Linked DNA regions of Homo sapiens. The protein of the gene in region 2 purifies or fractionates together with the protein of the main gene of each other region. This does not show direct contact. Each region holds a gene or a part of one and is shown on either strand. Other genes may lie near its edges. The genes, in order: DHX15 and CMTR1.

Region 1 (11,871 bases), on a different chromosome or scaffold from region 2:
CATTTGAACATAATATAAAACTAGGATTCCAACATTTAAGAGTATCTGCAATTTTGTTAATTTTACTGTACATAAATGAAAAATAAATGCTCAGAAATCACAAAATATCCAGATTTCACACATTAAAAATTAAGTGCTTAAATTAGACATTTGCTTTGTGATTCCAGTATTTTAAAATGACAATTCCAACTTTACTGGAGATTAGACTACCCAATCTGCTAAGTATGCAAGGAGCTAAAACAAAATGATGACTATGTAGGATATAAAGGCATCTCTAAAATGTGGAAGAAATCCCGTAACACTTAAGTTTTTAGATAAAGTCCTAAACAGCTTTAAAACTTGCAATAAAAATTTTCCCTGAGGTTTGCCAAACTTCCAAGAAGTCAACACTATCAGCTGAGAATGCCACAAAACTTATCTGCATTCATCAGAATATAAACAGAAACAGGTAGTGGAGGAAAAGAAGTTTCAACAGCAGCCATCTGCTTAGTCATTAGCAATACTGAGAATAAAGACAGACAGTTCAGGAGTTTTTGATTTGAGAAAAGATTTTTAACTCCAAAAGCAGCAATATGTTAGTAAATTAATCTGGACCTTACCAATTAACTCACTGCATGTTGAAAAAAAAATTTACTAAGCAAAATTAAAAATAAAATTATTTAATTACAATCACTCTTATCTAATTACTATCTAGGCAACACTTTAAACTGTTCTCTCTCCCTCCCAAATTAACTCATGTGACTACAGAAGCACTTTTATTTAGTGGTCAGAATATGTTCTTAAAAACCAGTTTTAAATTTTTATGAGATTACTCAATTTCATGGAGGCTATTCAAATTTATGAAGAAAGGAGTACTGATTTCGCAGTTGCATTTAACTTACCAAGTAAAAATAATGAAGGTTCACAAAAATGAGAAGGTAATATTTACTTTAGACCAGCTCTACTACTAAATACAACAAATGAAATGTAAACAAAACGTTAGGTTTTCTGCTACCTTCTCCCCAAAACTCTTCAAATTCAAGACTGGGAATCTAAAGATAACTTAAAGAAGCAATGGTATGCAAAAAAACAGCTGACAACTAGAGCAGCATTTTATTTCATGAAAGACACTCTAGCATACATCTGAAAACCCTTCGGCTTACTCCCTTCCTTTCCCCAGCTGTGGGATTCACAGAAAATACCGCACAAAGTTGTCTCAGAGAAAAACCTTTCGGGTCCTTAACCATGAGGCCATTTGATATTTCTGATAGAATCTCAATACGCTTATGTTATCTGAGAATGATGACAATTTTAAATAGTGATTTAAAAAATAAAAATATGGCCAGGTGCAGTGGCTCACGCCTGTAATCCCAGCACTTTGGGAGGCCGAGGCGGGTGGATCACCTGAAGTTGGGAGTTCAAGACCAGCCTGACCAACACGGAGAAACCCCATCTCTACCAAAAATACCAATTAGTTGGGCATGGTGGCGCATGCCTGTAATCCCAGCTACTCGGAAGGCTGAGGCAGGAGAATCACCTGAACCTGGGAGGCAGAGGTTGCGGTGAGCCGAGATCGCGCCACTGCACTCCAGCCTGGGCAACAAGAGCAAAACTCCATCTCAAATAAATAAATAATAAAACAAAATAAATAAAAATAAAAATATACTATGCACTTTGGAGGAAATGAGAAACTAGAGACCAGACACAAGAGGACAAAACGATTATCCCAACAGCCTCAATACTACATTACAGCACAAATGCTGTTTATATGCCATCAAAAAAGCATTTTGGGGCCAGGTGTGGTGGCTCGCGCCTATAATCCCAGCACTTTGGGAACCCGAGAAGGGCAGATCACCTGAGGTCAGGAGTTCGAGACTAGCCTGGCCAACATAGTGAAACCCCGTCTCTACTAAAAATTAAAAAAAAATTAGCCAGGTGTGATGGTGGGCACCTGTGATCCCAGCTACTTGGGAGGCTGAGGCAAGAGAATCGCTTGAACCCGGGAGGCAGAGGTTGCAGTGAGCCGATAATCATGCCACTGCGCTCCAGCCTGGTTGACAGAGCGCGACTCTGTCTTCCCTCCCCACCCCCAAAAAGAAAAAGAAAAACCCTTTCGTAAAAGGCTTTTTAAAACTTTGTATTATCCAAATAGCTTCTGAATTTATTTAGCCACTCAGGTATTCCACAGCACACCTATAAACACCCTATTGAAAAGAAGCTTAGAAACGCTACATCTGGCCGGGTGCGATGGCTCACGCCTGTAATCCCAGCACTTTGGGAGGCCGAGGAGAGTGGATCACGAGGTCAGGAGATTGAGACCATCCTGGCTAAAACGGTGAAACCCTGTCTCTACTAAAAATACAAAAAATTAGCCGGGTGTGGTGGCGGGCACCTGTAGTCCCAGCTACTTGGGAGGCTGAGGCAGGAGAATGGCGTGAACCCAGAAGGCGGAGCTTGCGGTGAGCCAAGACTGCACCACTGCACTACAGCCTGGGCGACAGCGCAAGACTCCGTCTCGAAAAAAAAAAGAAATGCTACATCTGAGAATAAAATTTTAAATGAAGTAAATTCTAACTAAGAACTTTTAGTAATCCTTCCCAAATTTCATGAGCATATGGGAAGACAAAACCAAACTGAAGTGTTTTGATGATGAATAGGCACCCAAGTTCACTCACAAGCTAAATACTGATGAAGATAACCTGATTTCAAAGCAGCTGTGATGCACATTCATGCTTCAGCATAATAGCACTTATATCCCAGGGATCTCTTAAACTACAATTGCAAAATCTTGAAATTCCAAAAGCATTTAACACTCTTAAAATAATTATAACACAAACTCTAGTGGTATACAGAAGTATTCCTACAGTATGCAGATAAAAGGGGTTATATATTTTACATATTAATACAATCAGGTTGAAGAACATTGAAATAAAAAATATGATTAACATGTTCTTATGATTAAGGTTGCTGCATATTAGAAACAGTATGTCAAAAGCTAAATAATGAAGAAAATTAAAACAATACCTCTTGACCAGTTAAGAAAAGAAGAAGATCTCCCTCTTCCTCTTCACACATATGAATCTGGATAACTGTTCGAATTGCTGCTTCAAGATAATCTCTCTCTGGTTCTGGAGTATAGAAGATCTCAACAGGATGTGTACGCCCAGGAATAGTTAGGAGAGGACAGTTATCAAAGTAAATCTGGAATTTTCCTGCATCTAGAGTAGCGCTCATAACTATAACCTGAAAGAAAACAGTAAATTATTTGAAGCTGTCTTCAAGGATTCTTACATGGTCTTACAGTATAGCAATATTTACTATTCTACATATATCAGCTATAAAAATGCCCATGAAAACCTTCAAATAAACTGTAAATGAAAAATCAAATACATAATGGCTGAACTATAGTAAAAGTTATTTACATTTTTAAAAATTTAGAAAAAAAATAAATGCACAAACTACAGCATTTCTTCATAAAATACCTTAAAATCAGATTTTATAAAATTATATGTAATTCAGATTGCTAAAAGAAAACATTAATATGCAGTATAATTATTGCTACCATTATTAAAACAAAACTTTGCAAATAGGAAAAAACAGAAAATGCAAAAAAAAAAAATAAGTGGACCAGATATAAAAAGGTTCCTCCATAAAAAGTTTCATAAGAGTTCTTAATTTCTACTTTCAGGTTCTCACTAAAACCTTGGTAGCACAATAAATTTAATAAATAATGATAGTACTCACATTATTCTTTAAATATATTTTTTAAAGCATTGATCTAATTTGTATAAACAAAAACATGCTCAGGCCTCAGTTTTTTTTCTAAAGACCCAGAATCTTTCTTGCCAGTGTTGAACCCTTGTTTGTTTGTTTGTTTCTGCTAAGAGTCTCACTCTGTCACCAGGCTATGAACCCTTCTATAACACTTGTATCAACAAGGGATGAGTCTACATTCCAATGAATAGTATACACACACAACACAGCAAAAAGGGGAACATCATAGACTTTGGGGGACAAAAATGTCAGAAAATAGTTTTAGGCCCTTAATCAATACAGTAACAGGGGCCAAGGTACATGTGGTATGGAGGAAAGAAGTAATACACGAGGGTAAGTGACTACATTTCTAAGGAGCTGCCTGTCCTGTGTATAGTTATTTCCACTCTCCAGCATTATAAGTTACAATGGGTGTTTGTGATGAGACAAGGACATGGATCTGAGGGAGAAAGATTTGATCCTTAAGTAAAATAAGCCTCTGTACTTAATGAAGGGTACAGTGAGTAGCACAGTTACACATATATGTTATTAGATTATAAAAGAACTAGGTGGGTTACAAATTGAGAAGATTGGGCTTAAAAATGCATTACTATAAAGGGGGAGAAATAAAGTCTAAAATGAAAGCACAGCAAAGCAGAAACAAAACAAGAAGGTACTTACTAGTTCCTTCTTTTACAGGTGATTTCTTACAGTTGGTTATTGATCAGTATGTATTCCCCATTTTTATGCCCACATACACACATATATAGTTAAATGGAGAGAAGAAATTACTTCACCTTTAAATCTGATCTCTGTCTTACAACTTCCTTCAGAACACCCATTAGAATATCTGTAGCCAGTGTCCTCTCATGAGCCTCATCAAGAATTATTACACCATAACGCTCCAGGAGGGGATCATTCATAGCTTCACGAAGTAACATCCCATCAGTCATATACCTATATTCCAAAGAACATGTTGGTTAAAGGTTCCGTTAGGTCATTTTAAAACCAAACTTCGTGACAAAAATGAAATGCAAAGACATAAGGTAAATTAAAAATAAACTTCTGCCCCAAACAAATGTGCTACTGTTTCATGATCAATTGCAAAATTAAGTTTCAAGAAAATCTTTTAAGAGTATACAATGAAACAAGATATGCTTCATCAATTCTTGAAAAATGTAATACTGAAATGTACTGGGAAGACATGATATGACCAATTATGGAACATAATGATCACATGGTTTCACATGAATGCCAAGGCAAAATTCGTCATTTTCAATTTCTTAAACCTTTTAAAAACATACAAATATTCAACACGCAAAATCTAATAAACCATTTTAAGTTGCTTCATGTCACACCACTAAAATGTTACCACATGCAAATAAACATTTTTTGTTAAGCCTTAACAATTCCTTACTTAATAAGCTAACAACAGGCTCTTGGTTCAAAAGGGCTGAAAGCGTGAGTCCTCCCACCCCAAAGAAATAATCTTAAAGCACAAAAGGAATTCAATAATAAAAGAAGTGGGACTGAGGGGCAGCATCAACACTAAACAAATGCTGATACATAAATGGAAGATAAAAACAAATGACGTCAGATTGATCAATGAACCAAAAAGGGAAACCAGGCTTAGTTAGGGATGGCTCAAGTGAAGGCTGCTAATATGGACTCCAGTTATCACAAGACAGGCGCCACGTAAGAATGAAGGCAATGAGATCAAGGGTCAAGATTGTATAACTTTGCAGGGGTCAGCTATCTCCTGTCCATTCCACACTGGTTACTGATGTCACTATGAAAAACAACTATCTTCCTTTTGGCACCTGGACAAAACACAGGATGCCTTTAGATGCTTAAGTCACAGCTCATCCAGTTAGATAAAAACCCATTATTTTATTTACGGATTTAAAAGTGGTATTAAAAAATCTGAAGCCATCATTTATGAATTCACCATTTTGGCTCTTTTTATGATTAGTCTAACCTAATCTTTCATGGACCAACTGGATATTTTTAGCTCATGCCATCTGCTGGAGCATTAAGTTCAGCAAATTGATAGTGTACAACAAAAAGAAGTGAATTCTCTTTATTTCACCTAAACTTAATTCTAAATTTCATAAACTATTGGCAAACAAATCCATCTTAACTCATTTATATGCTTTATGCTTCTTGTCCTTGGTCATATTTTTAAAAATAAACTACCACATTCCTGGGAGGGACAAACAGCATTAGCTATAAGGTTATTTTATGTAAGACCAGGAAAGAAAAAACACTGCCAATTAAATTATGACTCAGTGCCTTAAAGACAGTAAAGCATAGTGCAAGAATCAGCAACACTATAGCCCTTAGCTGCTTTGAAATTTCTTTGATCTGAGGACGTTTGGTAATTTTTCCTGTCTTCCGATATATCACAGACACGAGAGAGGCAATACTCTTGTACATGATCTCAGTAGCAGAACATAACATACAGCTTCCTCTATTTGTGAGTTACCTCTCTTAGCTTCAATAGAGCGGTCTGTTGATTTGCAAGGCAAAAAAAAAAAAAAAGGATTGGTTACTCTTCCAACATTTGCTCAAATACTAGCATATTTACACCCTATTGCTCCATTTCCCAGCCTCTTGATACTCAGTGCTCATTTCAACATGGAATCATAGTGTAATATTTAATATTTCTGAAGGCATTTAAATTAGCAAATACTCTCAGTATATACAGACCCAACAATTCACATTATTTGAGGTGAAAATATGTACAGCTAGATCGAGTTCAAGCATTCACAGGCAATAATAACCAAACTGCCACCAACTACAAGACCTCAGTAGATTGTGAGACACATTGTAACTTCAGACAATAAAAACTTGAGAAAAAAGTCACAGAAATGATAAAATATGACTTTAAGTTGAAAACTTCTTAAAACTAGTTTTAAAAGTCACCTTCTTTATTTTGATCTTTTTTCTCCTCACATTCCTCAAGCTTTAATCAATCACAATATGGAGCAGAGCTAACCAACAGACATTCCTTTTTATTTTTCTAAGGGAAGAAATGTTACAGATGGCAGACTATAAATATTATAAATTAGATTAATGGAAATATTTTATTGTGCTTTATTAACTATGCATATTGCAAGTACTTAGTTAAATGGCCAAAACTTCTATCATCCAGACAATTCCCAATGGTTCCTCAATACTGATCATCACCCAGTGATCCCATTCCATGAGGTGCTGCACTTAATTACTTCTTGCATCACCAGTTAATATGGGATACTGCTGTTTGTACAATGAATAATTTCAAGAAAAATGAAATTTCAAAATTTCAAAGGTCTCAAGGATATAGTCAAATTTACTTCTTTTCCAGTGAAGAAAACGAAAAAAACCGTAGTCAACTTTTCCAGACTCTCAAAACCAGTTACTAAGACTAGGTATCACTGTACTGATTCCCAGTCCTAAGTCTCTCCTACATTAACACACTCTTCACAAAGTCCCAGATAAAGGAACCCATTGTACGTACAAATTTCATAGCAAAAAGCTATTCGAAAGATATGCCCAGGTCCTAACCTCTGGTACCTATCAACGTGACATTACTCAGAAATAGGGTCTTTGCAGAAGTAATTAAGTTATAAATTTCAGACAAGATCGCCCTGAATTTAAGAGTGGGCCCTAAATCCAATGACCAGTATCCTTACAAAATGTAAAGAGAGGGAGATTTGAACACAAAAGGAAAGCCACGTGAAGATGAAGGCAGAGACTGTGGTTACAAAGCTACAAGCCAAGGAATGCTAAGGACTGTTAGCCACCACCAAAAGCTAGGAGAGAATCATGAAAGACTATTGCCACTTAGAGCCTCCAGTTGGAACTAACCTGCCAACATACTGTTTTTGAACTTCTGACCTTCAGAATTGTGAGAGAATGAATTTGTCAATTTTAAGCCACTAAAAAAAAAAAAAAAAAAAAAGAAACAGTACTTGACGATTTGCTATACTGTTAAATGTATGAAACCCTTTGCTTAACAACAAAAAACTAACTTGACACAGAACTCAGGAAAGGCAGAATCAGGCACTGGAGATAAAAACTACAGTCCATTTTCCTTTATGTAAGAGTCAAGTTTTACTAACTTTCTTAGTAGTAATGAAATATTTATCCAGGCTAAGGAATGAGTCACAATAGTAAAATTTTAAGTTTGAAGTTTCAATGATGAATTAATAAAAGTGCCACAGGATAGCCAAACTCCACACTTTACTGGGTGCCTTACTATCTACAGTGTTTTCCAACTGTTTTAGGGCAGAGATGCTCTTAAAAATTTATTAGCATCACCTTGGAACTAGTAAGAACTACAAAACTTGAGTCTCATCTCAGATCTACTTAATCAGAAATTTTGAAGGTGAGGCATAGCAATCTGCTCTAACAAGTTTTCAAGTGATTCTGATGATTGCTAAAGTTTAAGAAACACTAGTCTAAATTAATCAAATTAAACAAGAAGCAGATTACCTAAAGATGTCTAAAGTAGCAAAAACATCCTTGGAGTAAGTAACAGTTCAGCTTTTCAACTGTGACTGCTTAATAAAATATACCAAAAACCCCATGTACTGAACAGTATCAACCTAGCTTAAGTATTTTTTTGCAACAGGCACATGTAGATGGCGTAGTATAACTACAAGCCAACTGCCAACTATGATCTCAGCAAGATGACGACACCTAACACATCACTAATTCTGATTTGAACAAACCATGGTAAAACATTACATCCTGCAAATATATTACTTATTTATATTTTTGTATTTATATATATGTATATATATTTTATGAAACATTCCAAAAAATTACAAACTAAGCCTAAGAAAGGCAAAAAATCATTTTTATAAAATGAAAACCAGAAATCCCTACCTCAAAGCTTATGATCCCTCCCCAGTAAAATTCCAGCTTGGTTAAATGTTTAAAACAAAAACAAAATAGTAAAATACATGGATTAAATTATTTAAACCAACACTGGGCAGGGTATGATGCAAAACCTGGACATCATAAAAGTGGTTAATTCAATACGTGTACAAAATTCAAGTCTCTATGTAGCATGAAGTGTCATAAAGCAAAGAAATGTATGACAAACTGAGCAAAAATTGCAACTTATATCCAAGGTGCTAATTCTGTTATAAGCTCCTACAAATCTATAAGAAAAAGGCCAATCCACTATAGAAATATGGGCAAAGCATATGATGAAACATCTAATTCTATCAATTTTATAATACCGCATATTTGGTCAAATTTAAATTCTCTGAAACTAAGATGCATTTTAAAATAGCACCTTAAAAACAGCTATCAACTAGGTAGAAATCCTGAGAAGATGAAAAAAGCACCAGTCTCAGATTCCAAAAAGAAATACAAATGGCTAATATACAAAAATGTTCAATTTCACAGAAAATAAATGCAAATTAAAACCATAAAGTAATCCCATTTTTCACTTAACAAGATTGACAAAGATAAAAAGTTTTATAATGCTGAGTTGGCAAGGGTAAAGAAACAGATGCTCATTTACTGATTCCTTACTGGTGAGAGTATATAAAAATCTCTATGGAGGGCAATCTGCCAAAAGCTGATAAAATTCAAGTATACTCTATGACCCGAACAATTTCACTTGTAGGGAATTTATTTCACAGATGTGTATGCGTGAAAAAAATGTGTGTACAAGTTTGTAAGAGGATACGGAGGACAGCAAATGTTTCTAATAGCAAAAACTGCAAATGAGGTTCCATCAATAGAATTTGTTAAGTAAACTAAGGTACAATCACAAATGCTATGCAGCCATTAAAAATAAAGCAACTTAAAACCACAATGAGATACCATCTTATACCAGTCAGCATGGCTACTAAAAAGTCAAAAAATAACAAGGTTGTAGAGAAAAGGGAATGCTTATCCACTGCTGGTGGGATTGTATTAGTTCAGCCATTGTGGAAAGCAGTTTGGCAACTTCTCAAAGATTTATAATAGAATTACCAGTTGACCCAGCAATCCCATTATTGGGTATACAGAATATAAACCCTTCTACCATAATGACACAGGCCTGTGTATATTCACTGCAGTACTATCCACAATAGCAAAGACATAGAATCAACTTAAATGTCCATTAAAAGTAGAATTCATTTTTAAAAGTAGCACATATACACAATGGAATACTATGCAGCCATAAAAAAGAGATCATGTTCTTGTGACAACATATATGAAGCTAAAGGCCATCATCCTAAGCAAACTAACACAAGAACAGAAAACCAAATACCTCATGTTCTCAGTTGGGAGCTCAACTTTGAGTAAATATGCACACAAAGAAAGGAACAACAAACCAGAGGATGGAGGGTGGGAAGAGAAAGAGAATCAGAAAAACTACCTGTCAGGTAACTATGCTTATTACCCGAGTAACAAAGTAATCTGTACACCAGCCCGTAATCCCAGCACTTTGGGAGGCCGAAGCAGGTCAATCACTTGAGGTCAAAGTTCAAGACCAGCCTGGCCAACATGTGGAAATCCCATCTCTACCAAAAAATACAAAAATTCACCAGGCGTGGTGGCGTGCACCTGTAGCCCCAGCTACTTGGGAGGCTGAGGCAAGAGAATCGAATCGCTTGAACCCAGGAGGCACAGGCTGCAGCGAGCTGAGATTGGGTCACTGCACTCCAGCCTGGAAGAGTGAGACACTGTCTCAAAAAAAAAAAAAAAAAAAAAAAATCTGTACACCAAACTCCTACAACATGCAATTTACCTATACAGCAAACCTGCACATATACCCTTGAACCTAAAAGTTAAAAAAGCATAAATAAAGCAACCTGAAAAAGGCATCTATTATAAATGAATGGCACTGTTTAATCTGAGTAATTAGATTTACTGTTCTCCATATTACCTAGGAAAGCTTTACAATACACTCAGAGAATTACATGGAGCGATGAGGAACAATGATGAAGGAAATAAAACACAGAGGTTAAGAATACATACTTGCTGCAAGACAAAACTGGGTTTAAGTCCCTGTTTTCCTATTATTGTCTGATCTTGGACAATTTCTTCCGTAATGGTCCCCTTGTAAAAATGTGAACAGGGTAAAAATTGTTTAAAATAAAACAATGTACATATATAAAGTCCTCAGTACACTAACTGCCTGGCACTTGGGAAATATTCAATAAACGGTTCTATACCACACTCTTAACTAGCCTCCATGTAACTCATAAATCCTTGGGATAGCCATACACTTTATAAAACATAGTGTAATATACACATAATCCTGTCTCCATCAGTTGGGTCAAGAGAATTACAGTTGACATGAAATGATAAACCCCAAGCATAGAAAAGAGTCATATATATGAACACCAAGTCATATGTTTCAGAAGTTTAGAACAAGATGAATCTTTCACACACACAGAACTATCAAATCTGTGAGACAATTCTGAAAGATTTAAAAGAGCCTAGAAACCAAGCATTCCAAAAGATTGAACTGTCTTAAATTCCAGAAAAACAACTTGTGTATTTTCTAAATGTTTGAGTTTAAATTCCAGCTTTAGAATTAAATGGAATTCCAAACAAATGAACCCATACTCAACAAAATGGTGTTGATTAATGTTAACAATAAATGAACCTATAGGTCTTATATTTAAATGTCCAGGTATAATTTTTCTATTTACAACTGATCTTTCAGGTTTATCTTTATATACATATAAAGAAATATATATAATCTATATATAAGAAATACATATATATGTATGTATATATTTTAAAGAGACAAGGCCTTGCTATGTTGCCCAGGCTGGAAGGCAGTGGCTACTCACAGATACAATCCCACCACTGATCAGCTTTGACCTGCTCATTTTCCAACCTGGGCCGGTTCACACCTCCTGGGGCAACCTGATAGTCCCCCGCTCTCCAAGGAGTTACCATATGGATGCCAAACTAGCACACTACATCCCGGAACTCTTGGACTCATGCAATCCTCCTTCCTCAGCCTCCCAAAGTATTGGGATTACAGGCATAAGCCACTGCACCTGGACTTGTTTACAACCTTAATGTCCATGCAGCCAAAAGAAGATTAAACTACTTTTTTTGGGTATAAACAGATCACTCAAATGGTAGAGTAAGTTGTTGATTCCATCTGTAAATGCATTAAATGATCACCTAGAA
Region 2 (11,874 bases):
ACAATTCCAGCATAACTTTCACAGTGTATTTAGAATTAATATTTTACCACTTTCAGTGGACTGTAGAAAGCTTCCTGCCTTATAGATCCCTTCACCCTTCCCCATTTATGTAGTAGTTATCATATGTGTTACATTTACACACACTGGCAACTTTATCAGACAATGTTATATGTTTTGCTTTTAATCATCAGGTATATTTGTAAGAGCTTAAAAGGAGAAAAATAGCCTATTATATATCTACCTAGCTATTTACCACTTTTATTGCTTTTCCTTCATTCCTGACATTTCCAGTTTTACTCTGCTATCATTTCTTTTCAGGCTGAATAACTTCCTTTAGGCTTTATTTTACAAAGTGTGGCTGGTGATGAATTCTCTTAGTTTTTCTTCATCTGAGAATCTCTTTAGTTTGCTTTCATTCTTGAAGGATATTTCTACTGGATATAGAATTCCACGTTGACTGTTCTTTTCTTTCTGGACTTGAAATGTTTCGTGTCACTACTTTTTTGGCCTCCATGGTTTCTGATGTAAGATCCATAGTCATTCTAATTGTTTTTCCCCTAAATGTGATACATAGTTTTGTCAACCTAAGCAACAGAGACAGAGAGAGAGAGAGAGAGAGAGAGAGAGAGAGAGAGAGAGAGAGAGAGAGAGAAACTCTCTAAAAAAGACGCTGTGTTTATTCAGGAATAAGCATTGCAATGGGAGTACAGCTGCCACAGTAAATAATGTGTGTATTCAGACAGGTAAAGGAAGACCAAAAATTTTTTAGGAAAAATGAGGAGGATTACATAAATGTTTTGAGACAATTATCCTTCACTACAAGGATCCTTAATAACAAGGGTGGTGTCATTGCAAGTTTGGACAGGCAGTTAGGCAGATGGTCCTTGCAGAAGTATGTTGTGTTGTTGTTGTTAGGTTGTGACGACTTTTGTGGAAGATTGTGATTTTTGCAGAGCCTTTTGTGATAGTTGTTGTTATCAGGCATTTATGCATGAGAACCCTCCCTTCGTGGGTTCCCTGGCTCTGTTTGTCAGAGTTTTGTTTTTTTGTTTTGTTTTGTTTTTTTGAGATGGAGTCTCACTCTGTCACCCAGACTGGAGTGCAGTGGTGTGATCTCTGCTTACTCCAACCTCCACCTCCCGGATTCAAGCGATTCTCCTGCCTCAGCCTCCTGAGTAGCTGGGATTACAGATGTGTGCCACTGCGCCTGGCTAATTTTTGTATTTTTAGTAGAGACGGCGTTTCACCATGTTGGCCAGGCATGTCTTGAGCTCCCAACCTCAGGTAATCCACCTGCCTTGGCCTCCCAAAGTGCTGGGATTACAGGCATGAGCCACTGTGCCTGGCCTGTCAGAGTTTTAAACATGAGTGACTCCATTTTGATTTTGACAACTTTCTCTGGCTGTTTTTAACATAGTTTATTTGGCTTTAGTTTCCAGCAGTTTGGTTATGATGCATTTGGAAGTGGATTTCTTTGGGCATTTACTGTTTGGGAAATTCTGAGCTTTTTGAGTCTGTAAATTCATGCCTTTTGCCATTGTTTGGAAGTGTTTAACCATTATTTCTTCAAATATTTTTTAGCGCCAAATATTTTTTTCTACCTCCTTTTCTTTGTAGGGACTCTGATGACATAAGTATTGGATCGTCTGGTATTGTTCCCTGGGTCCCTGAGGCTGTATTCACTTTTTTTTCCCATTTGTTTTTCACGTTTGATACTTTTCATTGATCTATCTTCAAGTTTAGTGGCTTCCTCCACCCCCATCATCATCATTCTGCTATTGAACCTATCTAGTGAAATTTTTGTTTTTGTTACTGTACTTTTTAATTCTAAAATTTCCATTCGGTTCTTTCTGCAGAGACTCACTATCTTTCTATTCATTTTTTAAGAGTCTTACTCCTGTGTTTTAGGTTATGGTTATAATGGCTATTCTTTAAATTATGGTAAAAAACACAACATAAAATTTACCATCTTAACCATTTTTAAGTGTTGTTGAAAGAAAAACTTTACATAAATAAAGTTTAGCAGAGATTATTTGAGAAAAGAATCAATTCATGAATTGGGAAGCCTCCCAAACCAGTAAAGTTTCAGAGAGCTTTACCTACCAATGGAGGCATGCAGTATTTATAGATAGAAAAAGGAAGTGACATACAAAAATAATCTGATTGGTTACAGTTTGGCATTTGCCTTATTTGGACATGTTTTGGCAGTTTGCATCCCCATGACTGACTGAAAGTTTACCTGCTATGATTAGCCCAGACTCAGATACTTGTTACAAGAATATACTCTCGGGAGGCCAAGGCAGGTGGATCACGAAGTCAGGAGTTCAAGACCAGCCTGGCCAATATGGTAAAACCCAGTCTCTACTAAAAATACATAAATTAGCCAGGCGTGGTGGCATGTGCCTATAGTCCCAGCTACTTGGGAGGCTGAGGCAGGAGAATTGCTTGAACCCGGGAGGTGGAGGTTGCAGTGAGCTGAGATTGTGCCACTGCACTCCAGCCTGGATGACAGATCAAGACTCTGTCTCAAAAAATAATAAAAAAAAAAAAAGAATATACTCTCAAGTTAGGTTACAGTTTGTTTACATATTATTAGATTATGTTATGTATGGAGGCAGATTTAAGCCAAATGTAATTTAACAGTGTACAGTTCAGCAGTGTTAACTATATTCGCATTGTTGTGCAAAATATGTGCATTTTCGGTTGCCTTTTAGTACAAGTTGGGAGAAAACGAAGGGGAAAAAAATTGGGAAACTCACTCTTGATTTGACAGTTCTTTGACTTCTGGTTTCCTTTCTCCATATTCCTGCCATTTACTTTATACTTTACCATTTACTTTTCAGAATCCTCAGATAGTTGTTCCATGCATTCTGTCTAAGGTTTTAAATTACATTCAGTGGGAGAAACAGAATGAAATGTGCTGTTTCCATTTTGACAGGAATTGGAAATTTCTGTTTTTCTTTTTATTCTTGGGTATTTTATATATATATGTGTGTGTGTGTATATATATATATAAGAGATAAGTCATTTGTCAGATATATGTATTGTGAATCTTTTCCTCTCATTCTGTGGTTTGATTATTCAATGTCTTAATGGTGTCTTTTGTTGAGTAGAAGCCTTTTATTTTGATGAACTCCATTTTATCATTATTTTTCTTTCGATTAATGCTCCCTGGGTCCCATGTAAAAAAAAATCTTTGTCTACCCTAAGTCTGCAAAAATATTTTCCTGTGTTTTCTGTTAAAAGCTTTATCATTTTAGATTTTATGCTTAGGTCTATGATGTATCTTAATTTGCATTTGGCATAAAGTAAGAATCAAAGTGGGCCGAGCACGTTGGCTCACGCCTGTAATCCCAGTCCTTTGGGAGGCTGAGGTGGGCGGATCACGAGGTCAGGAGATCAAGACCATCCTGGCTAACACGGTGAAACCCCATCTCTATTAAAAATACAAAAAATTAGCCGGGCGTGGTGGCGGGCGCCTGTAGTCCCAGCTACTCGGCAGGCTGAGGCAGGAGAATGGCGTGAACCTGGAGGTGGTGCTTGCAGTGAGCGGAGATTGTGCCACTGCACTCCAGCCTGGGTGACAGAGCAAGACTCCGTCTCAAAAAAAAAAAAAAAAAAAAAAAGATTCAAAGTTCGTGTTTCCCTATATATTTATCTGTTTTTTCCAGCACTATTCATTGGGTATACTCATATACATTAAAAAATAAAATTTAACTTTAACTTGACTATATTTTGAATGCATTCTCTCATTATTTAATGCTTTACATAAAAATTAAATCATTAAATTTGCTAAATATGTTAACTTTTTCAATATAACTCATTTCCTATACCTTATTTTATACCCTTCAAATTATTATTTTGAGAATGGGTCCATAAGCTCTACAAGATTACCAAAAGTGTTCATGTCATAATGCATGCTAAGAAGCCTCAGTGAGGTGGAAAGAAGGACACTAAACTTTAGAACATAGAGAACTAGGTAAATACCTGTTTGCTGCTTCCTAGCTCTGTAATCTTGAACATATCACTCAACCTTCATTCATATTCCACACTTCCACAGATTCAGTAAATATCTATTGAGCACTGACCACCAGCCTCTGTTAAATCTTGTGAATTTAATACAGACAGACAATCTTTCCTGTACAGAGTTTACAGCTGAGTCGGGGAGGCAGATGAGTCCACAGGCCATTATACAACACCGTGGTAAGTGCTTTGATAGTGGAAGGACAGAGTGCTTTAGGAGCTCAGAGGTGGGTCTCCCAACCTAGATTTGTGACATCAGGAAATATTTCGAGATAGGGACACTAAAGTGACTCCTGAGGGATAAATGGACATTAGCCCAGCAAAGAGGAGAAGCATGATCCAGGCAGGGGGCTGAACTCTTAAGAGACATGGCATGTTTTGTTTTGTTGTGTTCTGTTTTTGAGATGGAGTCTGGCTCTGTCGCCCAGGCTGGAGTGCAGTGGTGCAATCTCTGCTCACTGCAACCTCTGCTTCCCAGGTTCAAGCGATTTTCCTGACTTACCCTACTGAGTAGCTGGGACTATAGGTGCGCACCACCACACCCAGCTACTTTTTTTGTATCTTCAGTAGAGACGGGATTTCACCATGTTGGCCAGGCTGGTCTCGAACTCCTGACCTCAGGTGATCCATCCGCCTCAGCCTCCCCACGTGCTGGGATTACAGGTGTGAGCCACCGCGCCCGGCGGAGACACGGCATATTTGATAAACTGAGAAGAGTCAGCATGGGGAGAACTAAGGGATAGCAGTACAAGGCATACCTGAAGAAGGGGTCATGCTGGAGGGTCTCAGAGGCCATTTTAAGGACATTAGCTTTATTCTAAGAGCAATGGGACATCATTGATGGATTTTAATCATTGTTGGGTTGTGACAGGATCAGGTTTAATTAATCAATTTTAAATTCCCTTCTTTTCACAGGTGTTGAAAATTATAAAAATCACTTTGGTTTTGTGAAGAACGCATTAGAGGGATCACAACTGGAGACAGTCACGGGAGTTTGGAGTTACTGGAGAAATTCTGCCGAGAGGGGGTAAGTGCATGAATTGTGGCAATGGGGATGGGGGTGAATGGATGGATTTGAAAGACAATTAGGAGGTAAGCGCAATTAAGTGTATGAGAAACTTTGGGGTATGAAGAAGAGGGAGATTCCTCAGATTTCTAGCTGGACCAACAGGATGGATGGCAGCGCCCTTCACCAGGAAAAAAGTGAGCTGATGGAAGAACATAAGGTGAAATTTGAATTCATGGGGTTTGAGGTGACTGAGTGAGGATGTCCAACAGACGTTTGGCCATATTGGCCTGAAAATCAGAAGAGAGGTTTGAGATGGAGAGCCAACTGTGCCCATATGGTAAGATGCTACAGGCGGCATTCCTTCTGTCCTCCCGTCCTTCGTTCAAAATCTGTTGAGATGTCCCATAGGCTGGATGTTGGGGATACAGCAGGGAACAAGAACACTGCGTTCGCTCAACCAGTTTACCATCTACCTCTCTGAACTTGTTCTTAGTCTGTAAAATGAAGATAATGATAAGATTAAGTAAGATGAGGTCGTGTGAGGGCACCTAGCACTTACAATTTTTGTATTGGTTTCTCTTCCTCAGAGCCAAAGGAGGAGATAGTTACTTTTGCTTTTGCAGCCTTTTCCGGGCGGCTTTTCCGCGCAGGCGCCCCTGGACCTCCCAGGTTGAGAGGTGGAGCGGGCCAAACCTCAGCTGCCTTTCCCGGGGCCGGGACCCGGCCGGGGGAGGACCGAGGCGCGGCGCTGTCCGTGACGTCATCAGGCTGCGCTGCCCGCAGTACTGGACCCGAGCGCGACGGTGCGGCTGGCGGACCCGGGCTGGCTTGTGGGGAAACGAAACTGAGGGAGGAGGCGGCGGCTCTGGCAGCGGCGGCGACAGTGTCGGCCTGACCCCCCCTCCGCTCCCCGGCAGCTCGCTCTCTCCCCTCAGCGTGAGTGCCGACGCGCGGCCCGGGGGGAGCAAGCGGGCGGGCGCGCGGGCTCAGCATCCTTCTCCCCTCCACCGCCGCCTGGGCCCCCCGCCCGCGGTTATGGGTCTCCTCGCCTTCTGGCCCCTTATGTCTTCCCTCCTCCTCCCACCCCCAACGCCGGCTCCCTGGAGCCCGAGCTGCCGCTGACACACGTCTCTGCGCACACATTCACACGCTCATGTTATCTTCAAATGAAGGGACTGGCCGGGAGACATGGGAGCTTATCTCTTCTCTCTGTGATTAGGGGTGGCAGTGCCAAACCGAGGCCCAGGGAGAGAAGACTGCAGAGGGGATTTGAACCCCTTCTGTGCGGAAGCAGCAGGTAGAACCAGGCCGCTTGCCTTCCGCTTAGAAGTTCCCTGCCAGAGCATTCTGCTGGCATGTGTGGGTCACTTGAGCAGGGCACTGGTTAGCTGTGTGGCCTTCACCTCTGTGGCCGCAGTCTTTTCCCGTGGAAGATGATAGGGTTGGATGAGATGATTTGGAAGGCCCAAATCTAAGGTGATGTGGTTTGGGGAGGAGCATCCGCCTCTCCTGCCTTTCACACAGCTGTTCAACAGTCCGCTTTGAGTTTGCTGTACTTCCAGTCTCCCCCCGAGTCACTTAAGAATTAAAAGCTTTTAGCGCTTGCAATGGCTAGAAGCAAGCTCTGTGATGAGCCTTCCTTTATCTCACCCTGGGGGCCTTTTGGGGGTATTTAAGACTACGGCTTAAAGTGAAATGTGGCTTAGCTTGGTCTTGCTTTCTGTTTGCTCAGTGTCTCCGGTTCTTCCCTGGGACAGCCCCTGCCTGTATCTAGTAAGAGGCTGCTTTCTCAGGAAGGTGGCGGTTGTGCATTGGGTTGATTGGCTCTTCCTTGAGTTGGAGAGAACTGAAACATGTGATCCAGGGTTTTACGAGGTTGGGAGCATCAGTGACACTTTTGGGTTTCAATACTTTCTTGCTGTACCTCGCCTTCCCTAAGGATTGTTTCCCAGCTTGTCGCCCACCCTGTATTGAGTCCTCTTTTCTGAGTTCTCTACAGCCAATCAGTTGTGTGTAAGCCACACTGTATTCACTACTTCTCTTGCTTGCTCTTTAACTTGATAATTCGTTAAGATTTCAGGGTTTCATAATCACTTCATTCCATCTTATTTTTTTCTCGTGCTTATCTCTCATGTACCTAACCATGGGGATGGATGATTGATGGTGGCATGGTGCCTGTTTCTTTCTTTTTTGTTTTTTTGAGACGGAGTCTTGCTCTGTCGCCCAGGGTGGAGTGCAGTGGTGTGATCTCGGCTCACTGCAACCTCCGCCTCAGCAATTCAAGCGGTTCTCCTGAGTAGCTGGGACTACAGGCATGTGCCACCACCCGGCTAATTTTTGTGTTTTTTTTACTAGAGATGGGGTTTCACCATGTTGGCCAGGCTGGTCTTGAACTCCTGACCTCAGGTGATCCGCCCACCTCTTTCTCCCAAAGTGCTGGGATTACAGGCGTGAGCCACCGCGCCCAGCTGGTTTCCACTCTTTTTTGTGGAGGTGGATTTCTGTCCTTAAAATTGTTGTTTTCGTAACTGAGTTCTGTGGTATAGCTACCTCCAGTCCCAATAACTTTCCCGCTCTTGTGTTTCCTCGGTCTTAAGTCATTTCACTGCTTCCATTCCCTACTCTGCTTAAAAACTTTCCCAATTCTTTCATGTTTTCAAACATTATGAAGTAAACCAAAACCAGTATTTTTATGATATTATGTAATTTCTTAATTGTTTTGGTAAAATAATGCTGATGAAACAGTCATTCTGGGATGGTCCCTTCACCTTGGGAATATTGGTTAATATTTATTCGGTTTTATAGTTCATTTTCAGTGTACATTGTCATGCATGGCCAATATTGCATCAAAAGTGTAGAATAACTACAGGTACCAAGGCTTTATCCCCCAGTGGCTTGTGGAGTTGATCCATGACTTTCTGTTATCTGACACCAGTGGCCCAGGGCTCTCTCAGTCTGTGAGCACCACATTTTCCAGTAAAACAGCTATTATTGAAAACCAACACTTGTCTAGCATCCTTCCTAGACCTCATTCTGAGGAAGAGGCTATTCAAGTGCTGGCACTGGAAGATGTGTAGAATTGCCAAATCTCATCCCATTGATGATTTACACTTTGGAATCCCTGCTGTGATCCCAGTGGCTGTGACCCAAGGGCAGCTGACTGACTGGATTTATGGTTACAGTTAACGATGAAGAGGAGAACTGACCCAGAATGCACTGCCCCCATCAAGAAACAGAAAAAAAGAGTTGCAGAGCTTGCCCTGAGCCTCAGCTCCACGTCCGATGATGAACCTCCCTCCTCTGTCAGTCATGGAGCAAAAGGTACGTGTGCTTGTGTGGTCTGAGGCCACTGGCCATCTGGTTATTTGAACACACAGTGTCTAATCTAGGTGGAGCAGACTATAGTCCACTGCCCCTTGGTCCCTTGAGGAAAATTAGGAATACTCTACAGAGAGATGTTGGCTATAGACTCTTTTCCCTTCTGCCATTCTCCTACTAAGAGTGGGGAAACTTGTTTTAAATAAAAAATGGTAATTTTTCCAGAAGTTGCTTTCTGTTGGTTGTCCTTCAGTAGGTGGCACTCTTGCTGCCTTAAACCAGTTAGAAGTAGTGGTGAGCATTGAGTGCTGTGTGCCCTTAATAGCTGTTAATTATCCTGGGGCTCTTTTGTAAGGGAGGGCCTCTTTGCTGCGGCCGTCGAGCCTAATTTTCACTTTTTTTGCATGCATACCGTTTTCTCAATTCCTTCAGCGGTTGTGGTCAGAAGTATCCAACTACTGGAGCATTGCTGCGTTCACTGTTTGCATTAAGCGTCGAAGATTTCACTAATCTGGTTGAAACTAGCATTTTGCTTTGCCTGTCTTTTAGGGTTATTCACAGTTTCCATAGATGCTTTCTGAGGAATGGTAAAATGTCTGGGAGCTTGCCTCAAATACCTCAAGGTAAATTTGCATTTACCTTGACTTGCCAGCTGTATTAGTTTCTTAGGGCTACTGTAACAAATTACTACAAACTGGGTGACCCAAAACAACAGACATTTATTCTCTCACAGCTCTGGAGGCTAGTAGTCCAAAATCAAAGTGTTGGTGGGGCCATGTTCCCTCAAAGGCTCTTGGGAAGACCTTCCTTACCACTTCTAGCTTCTGCTGGCTGCTAGCATTCCTTGGTGTTCCTTGGCTTGTGGTAGCATAACTCCAATCTCTGCCTCTACCTTTCCTCTGTGTGTGTCTGTATCCAAATTTCCCTCTTCTTATAAGGACATCGGTCATTGGATAGGGCCCACTGTAATCTAGTATTACATTTGATGTAATCTGGAAAGACCCTATTTCCAAATTAGGTCACATTTACAGGCTTTGGGGAGGATACCATATTCAACCCAGCACACCAGCAGGCTTGCATATTGGATCCTCTGTTGGATCACTGGGAAACTGGAATGAAATTTCATAACAGATTGGTGACTGAAAGGGTGTGAAGCACCCTTTGAAGGTAGTAGGAAATACAGTTTATTCACAAGTGATAAGCTTATTGAAGGGCAGTTACTCATCAGCTGCTACTGAGAAGCTGGTCCAGAGAGAAGCTTGACAGGTGGTACAGCGAATGGAGCATCGGTGTCGCTGTAGTCCAGGCTAGATAAGAGAGTCAGTTGCAGCTTTGTATGTGGAGGTGTTCACGCCTTTAAAGCAAGCTTGTCCAACCTGTGGCCCAGGATTGCTTTGAATGGGACCCAACATAAATTTGTAAACTTTCTTAAAACATTATGAGATTTTTGGGGGATTTTTTTTTTTTTTTTAAAGCTCATCAGCTGGCCAGGCGCGGTGGCTCACAGTTGTAATCCCGGCACTTTGGGAGGCTAAGGTGGGCGGATCACGAGGTCAGGAGATCGAGACCATCCTGGCTAACACAGTGAAACCCCATCTCTACTAAAAAACAGAAAAAAGTAGCCGGGCGTGGTGGCAGGCGCCTGTACTCCCAGCTACTCGGGAGGCTGAGGCAGGAGAATGGCGTGAACCCGGGAGGCAGAGCTTGCAGTGAGCCGAGATTGTGCCACTGCACTACACGGAGCAAGAGTCCGTCTCAAAAAAAAAAAAAAAAAGCTCATCAGCTGTTGTTAGTGTATTTTATGTGTGGCCCAAGACAATTCTTCCAGTGTGGCCCAAGGACGCCAAAAGATTGGACACCTCTGCTTCAAAGTCACAGTAGATTCCAGGGTAGGTAGGAATTGAAGTTCCTGAGTAAGAAGGCAAAAACTTACTGCACGCGATGGTTCTGGAGATTCTTGAGGAAAGGGAATTTTACCTCTCACCTGGAATTTGAGCAGCTTGGTGAAGATAGAATCTCCTTGGGTAGGGGTATTGGGAGAGATGGCTTGTAAGGGAAAAAGAGAGAGTATGTCTGGGGAACAAGTGATATCTGGTTCTAAGTGGATCTTGGGGGACATTTGCTCTCAAGTAACATCTCTTTGAAGTAAGGAAAGGACAAGTCCCAGGTAAAAGAAGGTAAGTGTATAAGGGTAAGGATCCTTCAAGGAAACCGTTCTGATTTAAATTTCAAGCTTTTGTGACTGAATTGAGATTACTCTTCCCCCTTCTCTGGAAGTGGTACTATATGACTCAGTCAGGATTGACTATTGCTGTTGTGTGTGTAGAATGGAAATCCAGGCTGGGCATGGCGGCTTATGCCTGTAATTCTAATACTTTCGGAGGTCAAGGTGGGCGGATTGCTTGAGCCCAGGAGTTTGAGACCAGCCTGGGGAACATGGTGAAAACCCACCTCTGCAAAAAATACAGATATTAGCTGGGCATGGTGGCATGCACCTGTAGACCCAGCTACTCGGGAGACTGAGGTGGGAGGATCACTTGAGCCTAGGAGGTAGAGGTTGCACTGAGCCAAGATTATGCCACTGCACTCCAGCCTGGGCATCAGAACAAGACCCTATCTCAAAAAGAAAAAAAAAAGAATGGAAATCCAGAGGTGTCCAGTTCCTTGTATGTGTCTGGCAAGAGGCCACTTCGTCCTTTCATTTGCAGAAAATGAGATGGGAGGCAGAGGCAAACCAACATTTCTAGATTTCCCTAGGTTAATTTATTTTAGGAAGGGGCAGCTCTGCATTGACACAGAAACTGAGGGCAGTATCTTTATCAGCAAGACTGCTCCCTGTGCCTTCTTTCCCACCATGCCTAGCCTGGAGCAAAAGCTCAGTAAATAGTTACTGAATAGAACTGATAAAAGGCAACAATAGTATCTTTTCCAAGAAGCTTAAAATGCGTCACAGTTTTCATTTTGCCTGTCTCCTCCAGTCTGCAGAAGATCATTTCATTAAGTACTTAGCATTTATATCACCTATGTTCTGTATCTAATTCTCTTAGGTGTCCCCCGGACAGTATACCCTGGTGGTTTGCTGTCTACATATCCCCTGAAATGTATATGCAGCTTTCCTATTCAAATCATTCTATTAAAGCAGAGGTGTTTCCATTTACTGCAGCCACTTCTACCTGAACATAATGTTCAGGTAGATGATTGAAAAATGCTCTTTAGGGAGGACAATTAGAAAAACAAAACAGTAGTTACTATTTCTGTCTGTGTGGACCTTATTTTTTCCTCCTCTGCTAAATCAATGTAATGACTCATTATTAGATCTATTTAGTTTAATCAGTGTGTTTATTTTACATTATTCACATGGTAGCTGCATTGCCAGGTCAAAGACTGACATCTGGCCAGAGTAAAGAAGAAAAGGGATGTTGTTGTCATGGCCACTGTTGCATCGTGATCTTTTGAGTATTTTCAAAGGAGTTTGAAGGTATTTTCAAGTGTAAATACATTCTTACAAATTTGCTGTCAAATAA

The links.
Region 1: the proteins of CMTR1 (region 2) and DHX15 purify together in Homo sapiens (co-immunoprecipitation; 3 studies listed by BioGRID and IntAct, with this or other methods). This does not show direct contact.

Annotation. Positions count from the first base shown.
Region 1 is NC_000004.12:24,551,722-24,563,592, forward strand, and holds part of DHX15 (ATP-dependent RNA helicase DHX15), read right to left. Parts: intron 4,690-11,871; coding exon 4,530-4,689; intron 3,223-4,529; coding exon 3,004-3,222; intron 1-3,003.
Region 2 is NC_000006.12:37,427,410-37,439,283, forward strand, and holds the start of CMTR1 (cap-specific mRNA (nucleoside-2'-O-)-methyltransferase 1), read left to right. Parts: upstream 1-5,811; 5' UTR 5,812-5,968; intron 5,969-8,214; 5' UTR 8,215-8,220; coding exon 8,221-8,353; intron 8,354-11,874. UniProt on the Homo sapiens protein: S-adenosyl-L-methionine-dependent methyltransferase that mediates mRNA cap1 2'-O-ribose methylation to the 5'-cap structure of mRNAs.